3 linked regions of the Homo sapiens genome follow. The protein of the gene in region 3 purifies or fractionates together with the protein of the main gene of each other region. This does not show direct contact. Each region holds a gene or a part of one and is shown on either strand. Other genes may lie near its edges. The genes, in order: PRKAR2B, SLMAP and IDUA.

The links.
Region 1: the proteins of IDUA (region 3) and PRKAR2B fractionate together in Homo sapiens (co-fractionation; one large-scale study listed by BioGRID). This does not show direct contact.
Region 2: the proteins of IDUA (region 3) and SLMAP fractionate together in Homo sapiens (co-fractionation; one large-scale study listed by BioGRID). This does not show direct contact.

What each region holds. Positions count from the first base shown.
Region 1 is NC_000007.14:107,051,190-107,054,900, reverse strand, and holds part of PRKAR2B (cAMP-dependent protein kinase type II-beta regulatory subunit), read right to left. Parts: intron 1-3,711. UniProt on the Homo sapiens protein: Regulatory subunit of the cAMP-dependent protein kinases involved in cAMP signaling in cells. Type II regulatory chains mediate membrane association by binding to anchoring proteins, including the MAP2 kinase.
Region 2 is NC_000003.12:57,857,141-57,860,851, reverse strand, and holds part of SLMAP (sarcolemmal membrane-associated protein), read right to left. Parts: intron 3,120-3,711; coding exon 3,024-3,119; intron 2,765-3,023; coding exon 2,693-2,764; intron 154-2,692; coding exon 13-153; intron 1-12. UniProt on the Homo sapiens protein: Associates with the striatin-interacting phosphatase and kinase (STRIPAK) core complex, forming the extended (SIKE1:SLMAP)STRIPAK complex.
Region 3 is NC_000004.12:1,000,544-1,004,075, reverse strand, and holds part of IDUA (alpha-L-iduronidase isoform a precursor), read right to left. Parts: intron 3,465-3,532; coding exon 3,379-3,464; intron 3,195-3,378; coding exon 3,087-3,194; intron 2,609-3,086; coding exon 2,513-2,608; intron 2,398-2,512; coding exon 2,195-2,397; intron 2,095-2,194; coding exon 1,915-2,094; intron 1,808-1,914; coding exon 1,591-1,807; intron 1,345-1,590; coding exon 1,132-1,344; intron 1,041-1,131; coding exon 919-1,040; coding exon of another isoform or gene 732-918; coding exon 606-731; intron 528-605; coding exon 451-527; exon of another isoform or gene 447-450; intron 65-446; coding exon 1-64.

The sequences.
Region 1 (3,711 bases), on a different chromosome or scaffold from region 3:
CACCAACATGGCACATGTATACATATGTAACAAACCTGCACGTTGTGTACATGTACCCTAAAACTTAAAGTATAATAAAAAAAAGTCTATTTAAAATATTTACATGCCTAAGAAGTTTTCAATCATTTTACATTCATACACATTTACCATTAGACAGTGTTCAATATTTTAAAAAACATTTGCACACCTACTGTGAGCAAAGCACAACACATACAGGAAAGACTTAGAAAGAGAGGGTATATTCCTGCACATTCTTGCCTACCTAGACTGAGGACCCTTGACATCTGCAAAGTTGACTGATGGAGGCCATATTCATCCTACCATATTGATAGTATTAACGTCAAGGAGGGAAACTTGCAAAAATATTTGGTAGGGTAAAATATAAACTAAACCTTTGGGAAAAGAGTGAGATTTAGCAGAAAGACAGGGAGAGGGGAGTGAGAATTCAGGACCAAGAGAATGACTTAAGACAAGAATATTTGGCTATATCAATTTAGAATCATGTCATGTGCCGCTATATACCGTGGTTTTTGTTTGTTTTGTTGTTTTGTTTTGTTTTGAGATGGAGTCTCACTCTGTCAAGCAGTGCTGCGATCTCAGCTCACTGCAAGCTCTGCCTCTCGGGTTCACGCCATTCTCCTGCCTCAGCCTCCCGAGTAGCTGGGACTACAGGCAACTGCCACCACGCCAGGCTAATTTTTTTGTGTGTATTTTTAGTAGAGACGGGGTTTCACCAAGTTAGTCAGGATGGTCTCGATTTCCTGACCTCATGATTCGCCCGCCTCGGCCTCCCAAAGTGCTGGGATTACAGGCTGTGAGCCACCACACACGGCCTACTGTGTTTTATTTACTACTTAATGCATATTTACAAAAGAATTGCCTTTCTTTCATGTATTTTTACACTTATTTAATAGGTAATCCAAGCACATGCTAAACATTTTTCAAAAGTTACAAGAAAGCAAATAGTGAACGATCTCTCTCCTAACAAAATAACCTGAAATACTCTATGAAATTGCATTTCTTTTCAACTATTCTAAACTTTAGACTTTCTTCTAATTCTGACTGGTATTTCCATAATTTACTGATTCCTAACCAGAAAACTATAATACGATTCTCTTTGTCCCATCCACAAATGTTGCACCAAAAACATTACCACTATACAATTGGAATTCAAGGTATATACAGGAAAACAGGTTTTAAAAGAAAAAGCCTGGATTTTCCCCTTCAGGTAACGTAGTTTTACTTCCTTTTTATAAGATAGAATTTTCCTCTGTATTCTGCCAACTTCTGTTGAGTCAATTAACTTACCGAGTGACTGTCTTTTAAAAAAGACACACACACACACACACACACACACACACACACACACACACACTCTTTATAATCTAGAAGCTTGAATCAGGGAACCAAAATTGATCATGGCTACTTTATATATTACTAGAGTATCAATTTAAGTGGTATTGTTTACAGCTGTAGTCTCCAAAACGGGGTTCATGTATGCCAAAACAGTGTATAAGGCTATATGTTGGGATGTAGGAGAAAATTACAACTTGCTTAGAATTGCTTTTTACTTTCTCCTTTCAAAATTTATATTGTAGGAAGCTTTATCATACATATAAGTCAATATATTGTCACATGTATAAAATTTATCAACATATATTGGGGTGTACACTCAAATATATTTTGCTAATAAAGGTATATAATAAAATAAATTTAGAGAATTAAGCAGCTCAGTACATGAGGTGATTATTTCTAAAATAAATAAATGTAGGCTGGGTGTGGTGGCTCTTGCCTATAATCCCAGTATTTTGGGAGGCTGAGGCAGGTGGGATCACTTGAGGCCAGGAGTTCCAGACCAGCCTTGCCAACATGGAAAAACCTTGTCTCTACCAAAAATACAAAAATTAGGCAGACATGGTGGCACACACCTGTAATCCCAGCTACTCAGGAAGCTGAGGCAGGAGAATCACTTGAACCCAGAGGCAGAGGCTGCAGTGAGCCAAGATGGCACCACTGCACTCCAGCCTGGGCAACAGAGCAAGACTCTGTCAAAAACAAAATAAAATAAAATAAACAAATGTACTGAGTTTCTAAGGTACATGAAATGCTAATTTGGGTTGAATAGACAGAGAATGCAAATTGTAAAAGGGAGAGATCAATGCAGGGCTAGCCTGCAAACTTTTAGAGGGAAAAGTAGGTAGCTTATTTTTTGATATGTGCTTATTTTCAACCACGTTACTGCTAAAAGAATTACTGAAATGAAGTGTATAAACCGTGGTTGAAGAGGAAGACCCTGAAGTCAGATTACCAGGTTCAAACCTTGATTCCACCAATTACTCTGGGGAAGACTAAATCACATATGTGTAAAGCATCTGTTCAGATGACAATGTGTAAAGCACTGTTCCACATCTGATACATCAGTAGTCAAAAATGTTAATAATAACTAGTATTAAATAAAAAGGACACCATTTATTTATTTTTTTGAGACAGAGTATACCTCTGTTGCCCAAGCTGGAGTGCAGTGGCGCAATCTCGGCTCACTGCAACCTCCGTCTCCAGGGTTCAAGCGATTCTCCTGCTTCAGCCTCCCAAGCAGCTGGGATTAAGGCGCCCGCCACCACGCCCAGCTAATTTTTGTATTTTTAGTAGAGATGGGGTTTCACCATGTTGGCCAGGCTGGTGTCCTATTCCTGACCTCAGGTGATCCGCCCGCATCGGCCTCCCAGAGTGCTGGGAATTATAGACATGAGCCACCGTGCCCGGCCTAAAAGGACACCATTTAAAAGACATTAGTTTTCTATAATAATGAGAACGAAACAGCCGAATCATGTTTTAATTCAACATGACCTTTGAAAAAGATGCTCTTTGGGTGTAACTGAAATATATTAGAACAAATGGAACAAACGGCTTTTTTCCTTCTCTTTTTACCCCCCAAATTCCCCTCAACATCACTCCCATGGACTATTTTGTCTTGGAACAGCTAATGTAAATTAAACAATGTCATCCTTAGTCAAACAGATACAGGAATAACTGTATACAGTATATCTTCTTGGCTTCACTTTTATGTGGAACATGTGTTTACATTTTGACCTTTTGTCTTTTTTTTAATTAAGAAACATTTTTAAACAGCAGCAACTGGAAAGACTTTTTTTTTTAGTTTCCAAACATATTAAGCTACACATGGCAGAGCCTATTGCTGAAACATTTATAAATGTTACACCAACTGTTTATAGTTCTGATTTTCTTATTTGATTGTTTTGTTGTCATGTAAGCCATGACCTGAAAATTTTAGCTCAAATTCTTTCCATAAAATTACATAATGAAACCGTCTGAGTCATTTTGAATTTGTGAAGCACAAAATTCGCTCTCATAAAATAATGATAAGCATCATAGTGAGGTTTTTAGAGTAGGATTTTGTGACTGTCCCAACCACAACTAGATGATATAGATAAGACAGGAAGGACAAGAACAGGATCAAGAACACAGTAACAATTCATTCAATTCAGAAAAATCACTGCATTCTTGTTTCTTTTCCATTGTCTCTTCTTAAGCAAGTGATAGGAAAATATAGTCTAATATTAGATTTCACTTCATTGAAAAAGAATCAAAGAACAAAAAAACCTGGAAATTCTGAAGACAAAAGTACTTTTCTTTAGCCCATCCTTTTAAACCTTATCAATCAACTTGATGGAAGACAGAAAAAATTCATAT
Region 2 (3,711 bases), on a different chromosome or scaffold from region 3:
TGATTGAAATACCTCAACTTCTGAAAGTTTTCTAACCACTTCAATTTTCTCCTGAAGAACCCGCCTCAGGGACTCTTTGGCTGTTGTCTCATAGTTATGTTTATCCTCTTGTAATGCTATAAGTTCCTTTCGTAAACTATCTTCTGTTTGATTCTACAATAAAAGATATTTATAATTATAGACAAGTTATTTTTTAAAAGCATTTATTGTTTGAAAAAAATTAACACATTATGATATACTTTAAATTATATATTAAGGTACCTCCAAACATAAATGATTCTGGCCCTGTATTAACTAAAGATGTATTTACAAGTTGCATAAGTAAATTATGCCTTCACAAACTTACTAATTTCCACTTCCTATAGAAAAAAAAAGTTATAGGCAATTGAGAATTTCCCTAAAATATACAAAATTAGTTACTTTTATATTTGTCATATTTTCTGCAAGCCACCATATTCACATTTGTAGGCAAAAATAATCAATTACCTTCAAAGGCACCAAGCATTCTGAAACAATGGTTAAAACAAAAGGAATAAGAGTACCATGGGGGAAAAGCAGACTTCATGTCTGGGGCAGGAAAAGTACAAAATGAGCCTGAAACATCTTGTCTGAAATGACAGCATGAAGCTATCACTCTGAAGACATTTACACAGACCAAAGATGGGATAATTTGAGCATCAATAAGAAAAATAGGCTGGCCGTGGCACTTTGGGAGGCCGAGATGGGAGGATTGCGTGAGCCCAGGAGTTCAAGACCAGCCTGGGCAACATAGCAAGACCCTGTCTCTAAAACAAGAAAAACAACTGCACCAGATTTAAATACATCAAATATGTTTAAATCTAAGTGGAGTGAGAAAACACTTCATGGCCAGTCTTTGGTAGATGAAAAACCACCAATTCATTATTCTGAAATCTAATAAATAAGGGGAGAAAATCACTTATCTTGCTTTCCCCGTAGAAAACATACCTCAGGGTTATTTAAATTTTTTTATTCCAATACCTTTAGAGATACAAGTGGTTTTTGGTTACATGGATGAATTATGTAGTGGTGATGTCTGGGGTTTTAGTGCACTCATTACCTGAGTAGTGTATATTGTATTCAATAGGGAGTTTTTCATCCCTCACTCCCCTCTCACTTTCCCAACTTCTGAGTCTCCAATGTCCATTATAGCACTCTTTATGCCTTTACATACCTATAGCTTAGCTTCCACTTATAAATGAGAACATGTGGTATTTGGTTTTTGATGCCAAAGTTACAAAAAACAATGGCCATTGTTTTTCCTTTTTTCGTTTTTTTAGAGACAGGGTCTCTCTTTGTCACCAAGGCTGGAGCGCAGTTCTGCGATCATAACTCACTGTAATCACAAACTCCTGGGCTCAAGCGATCCTTCCACCTAAGCCTCCCGAGTAGCTAGGACTACAGGTTATGTACCACTATGCTAAGCAAATCTTTAATTTTTGGTAGATACTGGGTTTTGCCATGTTGCCCATACTGGTCTCAAACTGCCCCCGCTTTTTTTTTTTTTTTTTTTGAGACAGTCTCGCTCTGTCGCCCAGGCTGGAGTTCAGAGGTGCGATCTTGGCTCACTGCAACCTCCACCCCCACCGGGTTTAAGCAATTCTGTCTCAGCCTCTTGAGTAGCTTGGATTACAGGTACATGCCACCATGTCCAGCTAATTTTTGTACTTTTAGTAGAGACGGGGTTTCGCCATGTTGGCCACGCTGGTTTTGAACTCCTGACCTCAAGCAATCCGCCTGCCTTGGCCTCCCAAAGTGCTAGGATTACAGGCATGAGCCACTGTGTATGGAAGGAAACTTCTCTTTATAGAAGTAACCCAGCTAAATAAGTGAAGGAATAACAGAATTACATCATTATTTTTGTAACTTTTTTGTTGTTGTTGTTGTTGTTGAGACAGAGTTTCACTCTTGTTGCCCAGGCTACATTGCAATGGCACGATCTTGGCTCACTGCAACCTCTGCCTCCTGGGTTCAAGGGATTCTCCTGTCTCAGCCTTCTGAGTAGCTGGGATTACAGGCATGTGCCACCATGCCCGGCTAATTTTGTATTTTTAGTAGTGATGGGATTTCTCCATGTCGGTTGGACTGGTCTTGAACTCTCGAGCTCAGGTGATTCGCCCGCCTCATCCTCCCAAAGTGCTGGGATTATAGGTGTGAGCCACTGCGCCCAGCCTTATTTGTAACCGTAATGAAATAATGGATCTAGCCTGGGATCATCAATGATTGATAAAAATCTCAAAAAGAAAGACAACTAGACATTATGTTGTCCCTTGGTGGAAGAACACAATACCATCCATAAAGTGTTGTTGACAAAAAGAAAAACTGAACCTAAATCACATCAAATCTCTAGATGGAACTACTACTTTATGGAGTGGGAGGGGGAGCTAAAAAATGTTTAAATAACAATGCAGACTGAGGGAAATTCTAGAGGACAAATGACCCAGTTTTTTCAAGAAATATTAACTGCAATAGAAAAAAGACAGACTTGTACATGGGTATTCATTATGTAATTATTTTTATTTACATGGATGTCTGACGTTTCTCAGCACAAAAGATTTAAAAGAATTGTGGAAATGTATGAAGTTTTTAGCATATACTCAAAATGATAGTCAAAGAAATGATGTTACATAAAAAACTATGCATTTCATTTTACACATTTGAGGTTAATACCTACTTTGGAGCATGCCTGTAATTGGTTTCCCATAACTTCTAACCGTGATAAGAGTCTATCTTCATCTATTAAAGCCTATTGAAGAAAAATTAAATGTAAGTAAAACCCGAGTAATTATAAAGTCACATGTATATAAAAAAAGGTTGCTACTGACAACAAAAGATATAAAAGCGTAAAACTGACCAGCATCCACTGTAAAATGCTAAATCTTCAACAACTTGTTCATTAGTTAGGAAATAACTTTGTCTTTGTTTGCTACATTTTAGTTTATTTAACATGTATGGAATATTAAACTATGTTTAAATGTTTCTTAAATATAAAACAACTGGAATACCTGCCAACTGGTATCTGAAGCCTCTTGGGTGATGGCTAGTAGCCGCTGAAGCGTGGCTAACTTCTGTTCCAACATTTGTTCCCGATGTAAGGCCTCCTAGTATTACAAATCACAAAACAGATTCTAATAAGCTCATCATGATTCTTTTGAGGAGTGATCAATTTTCAGCATATTCTAAAATATTTTCATATTACATCCCACTTGATGTATTTTAAAGTAGTGAAACTTGATAGTACTTTGTAAAACATACAGCAGTCCCCGCTTATCTCTGGTTTCCCTTTCCACAGTTTCAGTTATAGTGCAGTACAAGATATTTTGAGAGAGACAGACAGAATGTTGACATTCACATAACTTTTATTCACATAACAGTATACTGTTGTAATTGTTCTATTTTATTATTATTGTTAATTTCTTACTATGCTTAATTTATAAGTCAAACTTTATCATAGGTATGTGTATATATAGGAAAAAACATAGTAGATATAGGGTTTGGTACTATCTGTGATTTCAGGCATCTACTGGGGGTCATGGAACATATTCCCTGCAGATAGGAAATGGCTACTCCATGTATATGGGCCACATCATTTTAGTCTCATTTGTTGGGCTGAAAGTACTGCTATTAGAGGTTCTCTAACTGCAACTTCTCCCATAATAGAAAACAAGTCACCTGTTTTTTGTTTTCTTTTTA
Region 3 (3,532 bases):
CCTGCTGACCGGGGTGTACGCCTTACCGTCCTGAGAGAACTGGATCTCGTATGTCCACAGGCACCTGGGGAGGTCAGGCCAAGAACAAGGCTGGGGTCAAGACAGTCCTCAAAGGTGGGAGCAGGCAGGGCACGGCCGCGTGGACCCACAGCCTCATTCCCTCAAGCCCCTCGGCGGCACCTCCCCAGCCCCTGGGCACTCTTCCTGCCCAGGCAGGAGAGGGCTGGAGCCCGAATGTCCATCTCATGTCCCCTAGGAGAACCCACACCCCACTGGCAGGGCCTGGCGCGTGGCCCACAGTGTGTGGGGTGAAGGGCAGGGACGCAGGGCGGCGAGGGAGGGAGCCGATGGGCCACGGCAAGTGGCCCGAGTGACCGCATGGGTGAAGGGGTCGGGACCCAGGGACCTGCCTAGGACCAGGCAGAGGGAGGGGCGGCCCCACTCACGCACTTGGAGCCCACGTGTTCATCCGACCAGACCAGAACCAGCTGCCCTTGGGTCAGGGGCAGGGCGCGGAGCCGCGTGACCTGGGGGAGGGAAGGGCTGTGATGGCGTCGGGGAAGGGGAGTCCGGGCCGCGGCGCGGGTTAGGGGACTGCCACTTGCCTGCCCGGGCGGCTTCTCGGGGCGCGCACACACGTGCACCAGCAAAAGCGACGGCAGCCGCAGCGCGGGGCGCAGGGTCAGGCGGCCGCCGGCGGGTAAGGGGCGGGGCGCCGCGGCCACCGGGTCCTGGGCGCAGTGGCCGGTCCTCAGGGTTCTCCAGGGGAGCTGGGGACGCTCGGCCCGACCTCAGGGCGAACGCCCCCGGCCCACCGCTCCACCTCCCACCCACACCGCCTCGGAGCCCCCGCCCCGGACCCCACCCCCCCGGGACCCCGGCCCGGCCCGGCCCCTCGCCCCTCCGCGGCCCACCTACCTCAGCCGCGCGCATGCGCCGGAACTGCTCTGCCGTGGGGAAGACGGGCCGGCCCAGGCGCCGCCACTCGCCGTCGGGGCTGCAGAGCCCGTTGTCCAGGTAGCGCGTGACGTAGACCAGGCCTGCGGGGCCTGACACTCAGGCCTCGGCTCCCCGGGCCGCCCCCTCCAGAGCCCCAGCGGGGCCAGAGACCTCCCTGGAACCCCGGCTTACCCGGGCCGGGGGGCACCCCGCGCAGCCGCAGGGTCACCGCGACGCTGCGGTTGGGGTGGGCGCGGGTGTCGTCGCTCGCGTAGATCAGCACCGCGGCGCGCCAGGCGTCGGCCGGGCCCTGGGGGCGGTGGGCGCTGGCCAGGACGCCCACCGTGTGGTTGCTGTCCAGGACGGTCCCGGCCTGCGACACTTCGGCCCAGAGCTGCTCCTCATCTGCGGGGCGGGGGGGGGCCGTCGCCGCGTGGGGTCGTTGCCCAGCCGCCCCCCGACCCAGGGCCGGGCCTCCCACCACTCGCTCCCCCTCCCCTTGGTGAAGGAGTCCCCAGGCCCCGCCACGCGGAGGCCGACCCCGGGAAGCGCGCGGCTGGAGGAAGTGCGCTCCCCGCAGCGGGGCCTTCGCAGGAGCCGCTCCCCAGCCTGGAGGGCCCTGGCCGGCCCACCCCAGCGGCCCCGGCTCACCCAGCAGCGCCAGCAGCCCCATGGCCGTGAGCACCGGCTTGCGCAACAGCTGCACGTGCGGCGGGCGGGTGTTGTTGACCTGGAAGCGCGCGGTGAGCGTGCGCTGCGCGAAGGGGTGCGGGTGGTAGCTCAGGAAGGCATTGTCGTTGCTCAGGAGCGCGTAGGGGAAGGCGGAGGTGGTGTTGGCCAGTAGCAGGTTCTGATGCTGCGCGATGACCTGCGGGTGTCCAGGGCAGCTGGGACCGGGTGGCGCGGCCACCGCTCGCCTGTCCCGTCTCGGGAGGAAGGTGGCCGGGGGGCGCGCAGGGCGTTGGGCCGGCCCACCTTCACCACCATGGCCGCGTAGGTCACGTCCGCCCTCCACGGCTGTGGCAGGGACCAGCCCACCAGCGGGTCCGCCTCGTCGTTGTAAATGGGGGTGTCCGCGAACTTGGGGAAGAGCTGCCGGATCTGCTGCGCGACGACCTTCTCCTGCTCCAGGATGGAGATGGAGCTGCGCGCACCCTGCGGGCGGGGCCGCCTCAGCACCACCAGGGTCAGCGCGGCCCGGGGCACAGCGGCTGAGGGCGCAGAACACCGGGGCGGACGGAGGGGCAGGGCGCACCTTCCTGTGGAGGGAGATGTAGTCCAGCCGCACGCCCGCCTCCCCAGTGAAGAAGTTGGTACCGTCGTGGCAGTGGCGCAGGAGGCCCCAGCTCAGCGGGGATCGCGGTGGGGTGTGGAAGGAGTCGCCGGGGCCTCCCAGCCGCAGGGCGGGGCTGGCGGCGCGCAGACCCTCCGAGCAGGCATCGTAGTAGTTCAGGAAGCCTGGGCCGGGGGAGCACTGCGTCTACACCTGCCCTGGGGATGAGCGGCTTAGCCTCTGCTCCTGCCTTCCTCTGCCCCCTTTCAGCCGGGCAGGACCCCAGGAAGCGGTGCACACCTTGCATGGTCATGGAGACGTTGTCAAAGTCGTGGTGGTCTGGCTCATTCCACGTCTCGAAGTTCCACTTGGAAACATGCGCCAGTCCGTACCTACCTGCAGAGGAGCCTTGCTGTCCCCCCAGCACAGGTGAATCTCGCCTCAGTGACTCCCACGGAGGGAGGGTGCAAGGTGATGAAGGGCGTCTGACTCAAGATGAACCCCATCTCCATGCAGGCCAGCCTCCCGCCCCACATCAGGAAGCGCTGGCTCAAGGGGGTCCAAGACCTGGGCGGCGGCCTGGGTGATAGGGGTGCGGCCTGGGTGATAGGGGTGCAGCCTGCCCAGGAGTACCCCCCACCCCAGGGGCCCAGGGCCTTCGCCCACCCACCAAGCCCAGGAGTACCCCCCAGCCTGGGGCCCCAGGGCCTGCGCCGACCACCAACCTATCCCTTGTCACCCCCATCCCCCCACAAGGGCCTGCGCCTGCCCACCAATGTATCTCCTGACCAGGCAGCAGCCTGCGTGATAGGGGTGCAACCTGCCCAGGAGTACCCCCGCCCCGGCCAGGGCCCCAGGGCCTGCGCTCGCCCACCGATGTATCTCCTGGCCAGGCTGGAGACCAAGTCCTTCCACTCAAACACCTGCTGCTTGTCCTCAAAGTCAGTGAAGTGGCCCGAGGCGCTGCCCATCAGCTCAAACCCTGGAACACAGGAGGGCTGCCCCACCGCCCACCACACACCACACCCATGCTCTGCCAGGCCTGTGCTCCGGCACCAAGGCCAGCCCTGAATGGACATCCAAGGACTCAGAGGGGCTGGGTGAGGGAGAGGGTGGGCAGGGCAAGGGGGTGCAGGCGGGCTGGGAGGGCAGAGCCCACAGCTCACCTGGGAGGAGCTGGTTCTCCCTGAGAAGGTCCAGGTACCCGTCCAGGTGGGTGAAGTTGTAGCTCAGGCCCCGTCCAGTGGACCCCCTGCAGAAGGACGGTCAGCGTCAGGAAGCAGGGTGCCCACACAGCTCCATGCTCCAGGCTGGAACCGT